2 separate regions of the Homo sapiens genome follow, and region 1 is linked to region 2. A link means that fine-mapping ties the variant in region 2 to the expression of a gene that starts in the linked region. Tissue or cell type: hippocampus. Region 2 holds a variant in brackets; the other region holds the start of a gene. All regions are shown on one strand. Distances are from middle to middle.

The links. PIP is the estimated chance that this variant, and not a neighbour inherited with it, causes the effect. A credible set is the group of variants that fine-mapping cannot tell apart.
Region 1: OPRK1 starts here. The variant in region 2 is the best candidate, but not a certain one, in a credible set for the expression of OPRK1 in hippocampus (GTEx, PIP 0.77).

What each region holds. Positions count from the first base shown.
Region 1 is chr8:53,249,645-53,254,041 of GRCh38, reverse strand. OPRK1 (opioid receptor kappa 1) reads left to right here and starts at 2,405. Exons shown (of 4, transcript NM_000912.5): 1 at 2,405-2,594; 2 at 2,957-3,261. The coding sequence starts at 3,005.
Region 2 is chr8:53,204,312-53,208,708 of GRCh38, reverse strand. The region is part of intron 1 of LOC105375836 (a long non-coding RNA gene); the gene reads right to left. Among named protein-coding and RNA genes, the nearest start is that of OPRK1, 45 kb to the left of the region's middle. The variant C/T (reference allele first, on the strand shown) is at 2,055.

The DNA.
Region 1 (4,397 bases), 45 kb before region 2:
ACTTGTGTAGACTACACTGCACCTAAGTGTGCAGTATCTCACAGTATGCTTCACACCGAAGACAAGACTGATTTGGGTATTTATTATAACAACTTGCTGACAGATCTAAGTAAAGTGCCTTATGAAAGGGATGCTATTTTTAAATTTCATGCAAATTTGCTGCACTGGCTATCACTGTTTATTAAACACCTTTCCACATAACATTTGCCAGAGTTGGATGAATTTGTTATTAATTATTTATTAATTATTCCTAACATTAAAAAAATTTAGATCCCATGTGTCACACTAGCTTCACATCCTCTTTGAGAAGAGATTGTCTCTGTGTTGGTATTGTTGTATCCCCAGAGGGTGCCTTTTCTTCAGCCACTTGGGGATACTCTGCAATATCTGCTGAGTGAAGTGAGCTGAAGCCAGCTGCATCCCGGCTCAGCAAGACTCCATTGGCTGCACTGGGGTCTTAAGCTAATGAAGTTGCTCCCTCCAGCTCTGCACTCATTGCTGCACAACAATATCTGTTGTTGGAGCCACAAGAAAGGGAGTTAATTGCAATTTACTGGTGGGTTATCTAGTCTATCTAACAAAAATGTCAAAGCCACCCACTACCCAGGATGCTCCTTAGCATTGTAGCATTATCCAATAAAAATCTCCACATTTTCATCTTTAAAAGTGCTTTCCATGTACTTAGTTATAAGCATAGTGTTTGCATTGAGTAGAATGGCCAAGTATAACCACATGTGCTTTATATCAGTGTGTAACAGTATATAGCATTTTAGCAGTTTACTTTTCCTTTCTATTTTATGAGCTTTTATCTGATATTATGATAAAATTGCATACTCCTAAGAGCATGACTCCACAGAAGCAGCCATACTTCCTGGATTTAGAGACTCGAGTGGGTTCCCCTGGCAACCTGAGCCACCTGAGGGCTTCTCAATGCTCTGTTCATTTTGTCTTCCCTTTATTTTGGCCATTAATTTGGTAAACAAGAAAGGTAAGAGTGCTCAAATGAAATAAAACTACTGAGGCCCTTATGAGGTCTCAGCAGGTCTGATGTGTTACTGAAGGAGATGTGATCCTTCAATGACAGTTTGCAATCAGACTTAAAAGAACTCTAAGACTTGATAATAATTTTCAAAATTATTTGAAAGGGTTGAAGGGATATGGTTGAACAAAGGGAAGATTTCCTTATGCTCTTCATATTACACTGCTCAAAAGAGTTGTTCATCTCCAGGCGGCAAGACGCTGGTGGTCAAATCCCACTTTGGGGTCATGGCGTCTTGAAAGAGACAGGAACCCCCTTCTGCCCTCCGCTGATGGAGGGAAGGGCTGTATCAGTCATTAGTGTGTCCAGGTGTGGCATGGACATTAGCTGTGGGATGCAGTGGGGACCTGTGTTTGTCAGCCTGAGGCAGTGAATCCACTGGGGAAATTGAGGTGCCTAAACCCCCAGTCTCCCCCAGGCCTGTCTCCAGTACCCTGTGGAGAAGGGGAACTTCCCCACTCCCTTTCAGAACCTTCACCTCAGGGGCTGAGCCCTTGCTCCCTTTGTGTCTTGCCGGTCCCTTTGCCTGAGAAGAGAATGTCTCTCACTCAGCAGGATCTGACAGCTACCCTTGGACTAGCAGAGTTTTGCAAAGAAATGATGGTGACAGTTTATTTACGGACGCTCAGATTCGCGGCCGTATAATGGAGGCAGCCCTACTGTGAGGGAGAAGTGAGGAGAACGTGATGGCTGCAGGGATTAATGTAAAACAGAGACACTGTCACCTCCCTGGAGCACCACTGAGGCCCGGGTAAGGAGAGTGTTTTGCCCTTCTCAGATACTATCAGCAATTCAGGTAATACCCGTAAGGTGCAGTTTGTCTGCAGCCTGTCATCCCAGTTAGAGCAGACGGAATGGAAGAGAACGCAAGGAAATATTCTATTTATGTGTCTTTTAAGTCATTATTTTATGAACTGGTCTTATTCTAACTGGATCATTTTGTTACTTTCTTTGGATGGGCCATTCTAATAAGCGTAGTTCCTGACTGCGAACTATGCAGATAAGAAGTTCTAGACACAATATGAAAATCCAGGTGCATACTTGCACTAAATAGGCATGCTCCTCCTTTTTACTAAATCTAAATGGCTCAGTCTCAGGTCTTGGGGAAGGCTGCATGGCCGGGGACCAGGCGGTGTGCCGCTCGGGCAGTTAGTGGGCCGGGCGAGCCTGCGGGGCTGGAGGGGACGCGGGGCTGGGAGGCTGGGGAGCTGGGGGCTGACTCCGGGCGGGCGGGGCGGGGCAGGGACCTGCCGGCCTGGGGCGGGCGCACCAGACGAGCTCTCCGCCCGCAGGCCCCCAGCGCCCAGCCGCGTCCCGGCTGCGTCCCGCCGGTCCCGCCCCGCCCCGCCCCGCAGAGCCGCCGCCAGTAGTGGGAGACGTGCGCTGAGAGGCGGGGGCTGCGCTCGGCGGAACAGCAGCCCTCGGGCGGAGAGCGGGGCCGGGGTCCGAGAGCAGGTGATGCCAAGAGCTGAGCGGGACTCGTGAGCGCGCGGTTCAGCACCTACCAGGGCGTCCCGTAAAAAACCTCGCCTTCGCCTGTCTCTGGGAACCATAGGTAAGCTTTGGGCTTTCGAGGTGCAGTTCTAGGTAGAGCTCCGTGCTGGGAGGTGGGAAGGGGGCTTGACCCTGGGGACTCAGGCAGTCTGGGGACAGTTCCACCAGGGGCCGGTGCCTAGAATTGGTGAGGGAGGCACCTCAGGGGCTGGGGGAGAAGGAGCGAGCGCTCTTCGCCCCTCTCTGGCACCCAGCGGCGCGCCTGCTGGCCGGAAAGGCAGCGAGAAGTCCGTTCTCCCTGTCCTGCCCCCGGCGACTTGCGGCCCGGGTGGGAGTCCGCAGGCTCCGGGTCCCCAGCGCCGCTGGCCAGGGCGCGGGCAAAGTTTGCCTCTCCGCGTCCAGCCGGTTCTTTCGCTCCCGCAGCGCCGCAGGTGCCGCCTGTCCTCGCCTTCCTGCTGCAATCGCCCCACCATGGACTCCCCGATCCAGATCTTCCGCGGGGAGCCGGGCCCTACCTGCGCCCCGAGCGCCTGCCTGCCCCCCAACAGCAGCGCCTGGTTTCCCGGCTGGGCCGAGCCCGACAGCAACGGCAGCGCCGGCTCGGAGGACGCGCAGCTGGAGCCCGCGCACATCTCCCCGGCCATCCCGGTCATCATCACGGCGGTCTACTCCGTAGTGTTCGTCGTGGGCTTGGTGGGCAACTCGCTGGTCATGTTCGTGATCATCCGGTGAGCGCGGGGACAGCGCAGCGCTGGGGGCTGGGCGGGGCAGGGAGTGAGGGTCAGGCCCCGCCACTGGAGCAGCAGTGGGGGCAGCCAGCCAGGTGGTGGGGACTCTGTTCCGTGAAGGATCCTGGAAATGCTACAGGGTGGCTTCCTAGAAGAGGTGAAGGATTTTCTGGGAGTTTTTGGTGGAGTGCTGAGAGGTTCACACAGGCGAATCCGAGCGGCCAGGGGCGTCTGGAAGATTTCAGAGTAACCCCCCGACCCCACCCTAGGGCCCAGTGTTTCTGCTGAAAACTCTATGCGCAGGGCAAGGTGCCAGGGTGCTGACAACAGGGTCAGGGGTTCCTGGTAAAGGAACTAATCCATTTGCCTGCGCCAGTTTGGAGCACTTTGTTATGCCCTTTGCAAATATTTCTTAAGATAAATTTCAAGCCCACCCAATGCACTGAAGATAATTCCGAATTTCCTGGGACTCCTCAGACTGGTGTTTTGGCTTATGAAACAAAACCTGATATATGCTCTAGCGTTGTTGATATGCATATATGAGCCTTTTTAGTATCAAATGGCATCCCATTTGTTAGGAATATCAGTAAATAATATTTATCCTCTAAAACATGGCCTGTGGAGATTTTCAAAAACTACTTCGCTGTTTTTTTCACCATGAGAAATTGAAGGTTTTATTTGTGTGTGTGTGTGTGTGTGTGTGTGTGTGTGGAAATTTCTTCAAGTCAACTTCCAATAATAAGTATCCCAATATCCACATATATGCTAATTTTTTGGTAAGCAAAGTGATTCTGACTTTAAGAAAGAAAAACAAGAAAAGGAAAACCTAACTTTGTTCTGCACTTTTCTTAAGATAGATGTGTTTCCTTTTCTGGGAGCACTAGAGCTTTGTCAACACACCTGTGAGAGGGAGTAGGAAGCTTGTGTTCCTTTGAGAAGTCTCTATGAAATAAGGGCGGGATGCAAGTCACCCTGGCTAGGGACTCTGAAACGATGAATAGCTGATTTTTTTTAAGCTTGATTTTAGTTTTGAAACAGGCCATTTATTTATTATGAACTTTAACAACCATATCATGAATGGTAGCATAAATGTTTCTCTTGGAAAATTATCATAATAAAATACTGCTTTATTTTTA
Region 2 (4,397 bases):
ATGTTCTTTCATTTCGATTTCTAAAGTTTAAGTTTTATGTTTTCTTAGAGTTTCCATCTCTCTGTTTACATTTCCCATTTGCTTTTGCATGTTGCCTACTTTTGCTATGAGAGCCATTAGCATATTAATCCATTATTTTAAATGCCTAGTCTGATAATTCTAAAATTGCTGCCACATCCCAGTCTGATTCTGATGCTTGATTTGCCTCTTTAGTCTGTGTTTTTTCTTTTTAGTATGCCCTGAGTTTTTGTTTTTGTTTTTTTGAGCCAGACATGGTGTACTGTGTAAAGGAAACCGAGGTAAATATTCCTTTAGTGTGCAATTTTATATTTATCTAGGAAGGAGTTAGGCTGTGTTTACTGTTTGCTGTTGCTATAGGTATCCGAGGCTAAAATTTCTTCTAGTGCCCTTGTTTTCAACTCCCCTGTTGTCTTTGGTTTCCCTACAGATGTCTTCTAAAATAATCTGAGCCTTGCAGTTCTTTTTATCTGTAATCCTCTCTTATTATAAAAGTGTTCTATTGATACAGTGGTAAGGTATGGGGGAAAGCTAAATGTTTTGTAGTTCTATAACTGAGTCTCAGTCTTTTAATGGGCCTATGTTCCTGGGATGTAATCTTCACAAATGCTTCCTCATGCTTTTTTCACCGTCTTAGGTGGGATAGGAGGGGAACGGGGGCTGAGATTTTGTGTTTCCCTTCCCCCTCATTGGTTAGGCTCTGGTAAAACCCATCTTAGTTGATCTAAGTTTTCCTTAAGGAAATAACATAGTTTTCCTTTAGGATTTACCACTATTAATGAGACTGAAATGCTCCAAGTGTATTTCAAAATGATTACTTTCCTTCCCCTTGCTCAAATCAGGCAGGGTTTTCTCTCTGATCTTCACCTTGAGAATCTGGTAGTCTCTTGGAGTTGCAACTCATCATGTATCCCCATCACCACCACAGCTGGGCCCTGAGGGGTTTTTTCTCTACTGAAGTAGTCCATTCTCAGCCTCTAGGAATTAGTCCATCACCCTTTAAGTGTTTCTACTAGCTGGGGCTTTTGCTCAGTACACTCTGGTTCTCCATATCTTTCTCTTTCCAGCTTTTGAGTCAGTAATTGGTCTTGTCACCTCAATTTTCTGATGGATTTAAGAAGAGTCATTGATTTTCAGTTTTTTTAGCTTTCTTCTTCAGAGAACAGAGGTGATAACATGTAAGCTCTTTTGTGTCAGACCAGAAACCAGAAGTCTCCAGAAGCAAAATGAAGATGTGCTCCTTTGCTCACTTGGTGCCCACTGAATGCAGGGACCTGCACTCACTTGGAGACAGAGAGGGGCTCTTAGCTCTCCTGAGGCAGTTTAGCTGAAGACCATGTGAAATTTGGATGTAAGCTTGAAGCAATGAAATGTTGATACCATCCAACTTTGATGTTTCACTCTCTTGCTCTATGCTTTGAGTAAATGAGTCGATACAGGGTTCAAAGAAACTAAACAAGCCAAATAGTCAACTTTCATGGAGAAACACAATAAGTAAATGGGTGATCTTCCTTATAAGTGTGACCAACTTTTTTTCTAGAATTAACATACTGTGGGAGACTAGGAACTATCACATTCAATAAGTCAGAATATTCATGACAGATCACACAGTAAAGATAATTGTGTTTTCTGAATAATGAAGGCATCTATCAGCCTCACAAAGTGCTGGTTCAGATGCCTATGAAGTTGGAATTTTCTGTGTCACAGGAGGAAAACTTGGTGCTGTCTCTATCAACAGTGTCATTTCAAATTGATTCTAAGTCTTGGCTAAAAGTCAAGAGCACTCTGTCCATACAGTGAAAGAAAGCAGATAAAAAAGGTGTTCTTCTAATGGACAAATAATTTTCTTATCACTGTTATCAGAAAGCCATGGAAGCTGCTCGTGCCAAGGGAATACATAGATTATTTACCAGAGATAGATAGCTATCTTGCTTCATGGTTTTACATCAGTTGGGATAAAAGATCTGGACAACGTATTAACACTTGTCTTGGATTCACTCCAGTCTTCTATGTTGCAAGCATTTGAAAACAGAAGG[C/T]GAAGCAAATGTCTCCCAGGCAATGATAATCTCTATATTGAACTTTTCCTTCTGGAACATTTGGGACTGTCCTAGACAATAACAGCTATTATTGACTAAGTGCTTTTGTGAGCTGACTATTGTTCTACACACTTTTCAGGTTTTAACTTGTTTACCTCTCTAAATAATCCTGAGGTAGGCATTGCCATTGTTTCCATTTCATAAAAGATGAAATAGAGACTTCAGAAGGCTAGACAACCAGTGCAAGCTCATTGATGTGACAAGTAGCATGCCAATATCACTCTCTGCAGCCTGGTTCTAAACTTTTTTTGCAAAGAAATGCTTCTATATTTTGACACTTTCATCAATGAGGATGATCTCAGATCTAGAGTCTCACAGGTGCCATCTTGGAAGACAGCAAGGATCATGCTGGAAGAAGGGGCCCTGGGCTTGCTCTCTATCTGTTATTTACCATAGAAAGTCTTCTGCTCCTTAAAGCATAATAGTGGAGAATGACAGATGGCTGGCAGTGCCTAGCTGGCGTCTGTAGCTGTGACCTCAGAGGAAACACTTGTTCCTTTTTCTCTTTCAGAGGAAAGTTGAACAAAATGAGGAAAGACTCATTTTGCATTTCCCATTGATCCGATTTCAAATACTTAGGAATAAATCCTTAAAACACTACCTCTTTAACAGATAGTGTTTCCTGTATTAGTTTCCCAGGGCTGCTATAATGAAGCACTGCAAACTGGGTGGCTTAGAAGGACAGAAATGTTTGTCTCCCAGTTTTGGAGACTGGAAGTCTGAAATCAAGGTGTCAGTGGGGCCAGGCTCCCTCTGAAGGTTCTCGGGAAGAGTTCCTCCTTGAATCTTCCCAGGTTCTGGAGGCTGCTCATAATCCTTGGTGTTTCACAAACGATGGACACATGGCTCCAATTGCTGCCTGTTTATCACATAGCCTTCTCCCATGTGTCTTTGTTTCTGTTTTCTTTTCTTATAAGGACTGGAGTTAGGGCCCACCCTATTCCAGTGTGACTTCATCTTAACTAGATTACATCTGCAAAGATACTATTTCTAAATAAGTTTACATTCTGAGGTTCTGAGTGGACATGAATTTTAGGGAGGCACATTATATGGAAGCTGAGTAGTTAACTGAATTTGAAACTCCTCAGAAATTATGTGATAGAACAGAGCCAAAAGTCTGGGGTCCACTCTTTTTCTTGTTACTGAGCAGCCCTGAGGGCCACACATGAGCATACGTTGTGGTCTCTGGGGACTTAGCTGACAAACATTTGAAAACCAAACCCTGACATCTGTTACACGTGGAAGAAGCTGAGGGTAGTATGACAAAATGCCATTGGTTCATTTGGGCTAGGGTCGCAAGAGTTTTTCTAAAGGTTCAGTTTAAAGAGTAAGTTTGGTGAATTTCTATTCCGACATTAATCACCTAGAGAAAGTTGAAGATTTTATTTTAAAATCTAAGATATTTCAGATCATTTCAATGCTCAGAGATTGTTAACAATTAATATTCAGAAACGCTATTGTGTTGCCAAAAGCTGACTGATTTGTAACCTGTAGCTCTACATTAAAAAATACAGAATCCTCATGGGTTTATTTTCACATTCAGTTACCTGGTAAAGCATAACAAACATGAAAACAGAAGGTCTGTGGCTGAATTTCATTTGATTTTGCATTTGATTTGCGAGCCTACTTGATATTGCTGTGCCCCTTGTTATTGTCTTTAAATGTGAATTTGGCAGCGTTGATAATTTCCTAAATGTAACTCAAAGCTGCATGGCATCTGGCAATTAGGAGCGTGATGGTTCACACAAGTTCCAAAGACACCATGGTAATAGTTCTATATATAAAATTTCCACTTCCTGCATCTGCATGTTGGAGGACCAGATGCTGTATTTGAGGCATGTATTTTGCAGGATGTGGTGAACCCATCAGAGCTCAGTTCAGTGAAACAGCAGAGGTCCTCTTCTGACCTCTCTTTTTTACATTGTGGGTCCTGTAAGCACCAGCTTCATTACCAGGAGTTCGGTAAATCAATACACATGGTTTATTTCAAAGATACTACTAATGAGACAGAGCGAGGTGAAGGTTAAGGAAGAGAGCTCAGTCTCCCTTATTTGGATGTGAATTCTTGGGGCCAGCAGAAACACCAGCTGGAAACATACCAGGGAGCTTTATGCAATGGCTGGGGCACCCCCTCTTTTTCATCATTTAGGCTAGCAATGGGGGATAGAATGTCTGCAAGGGTTGGCGATGCTGATATTCATGTCCTCTTCTTCCTTCCCTCCTGCCTCCCTCTGCTTTCGCCAGACATTATGTACCCGGAAGCTTGCCAGCTGGCAGAAATGG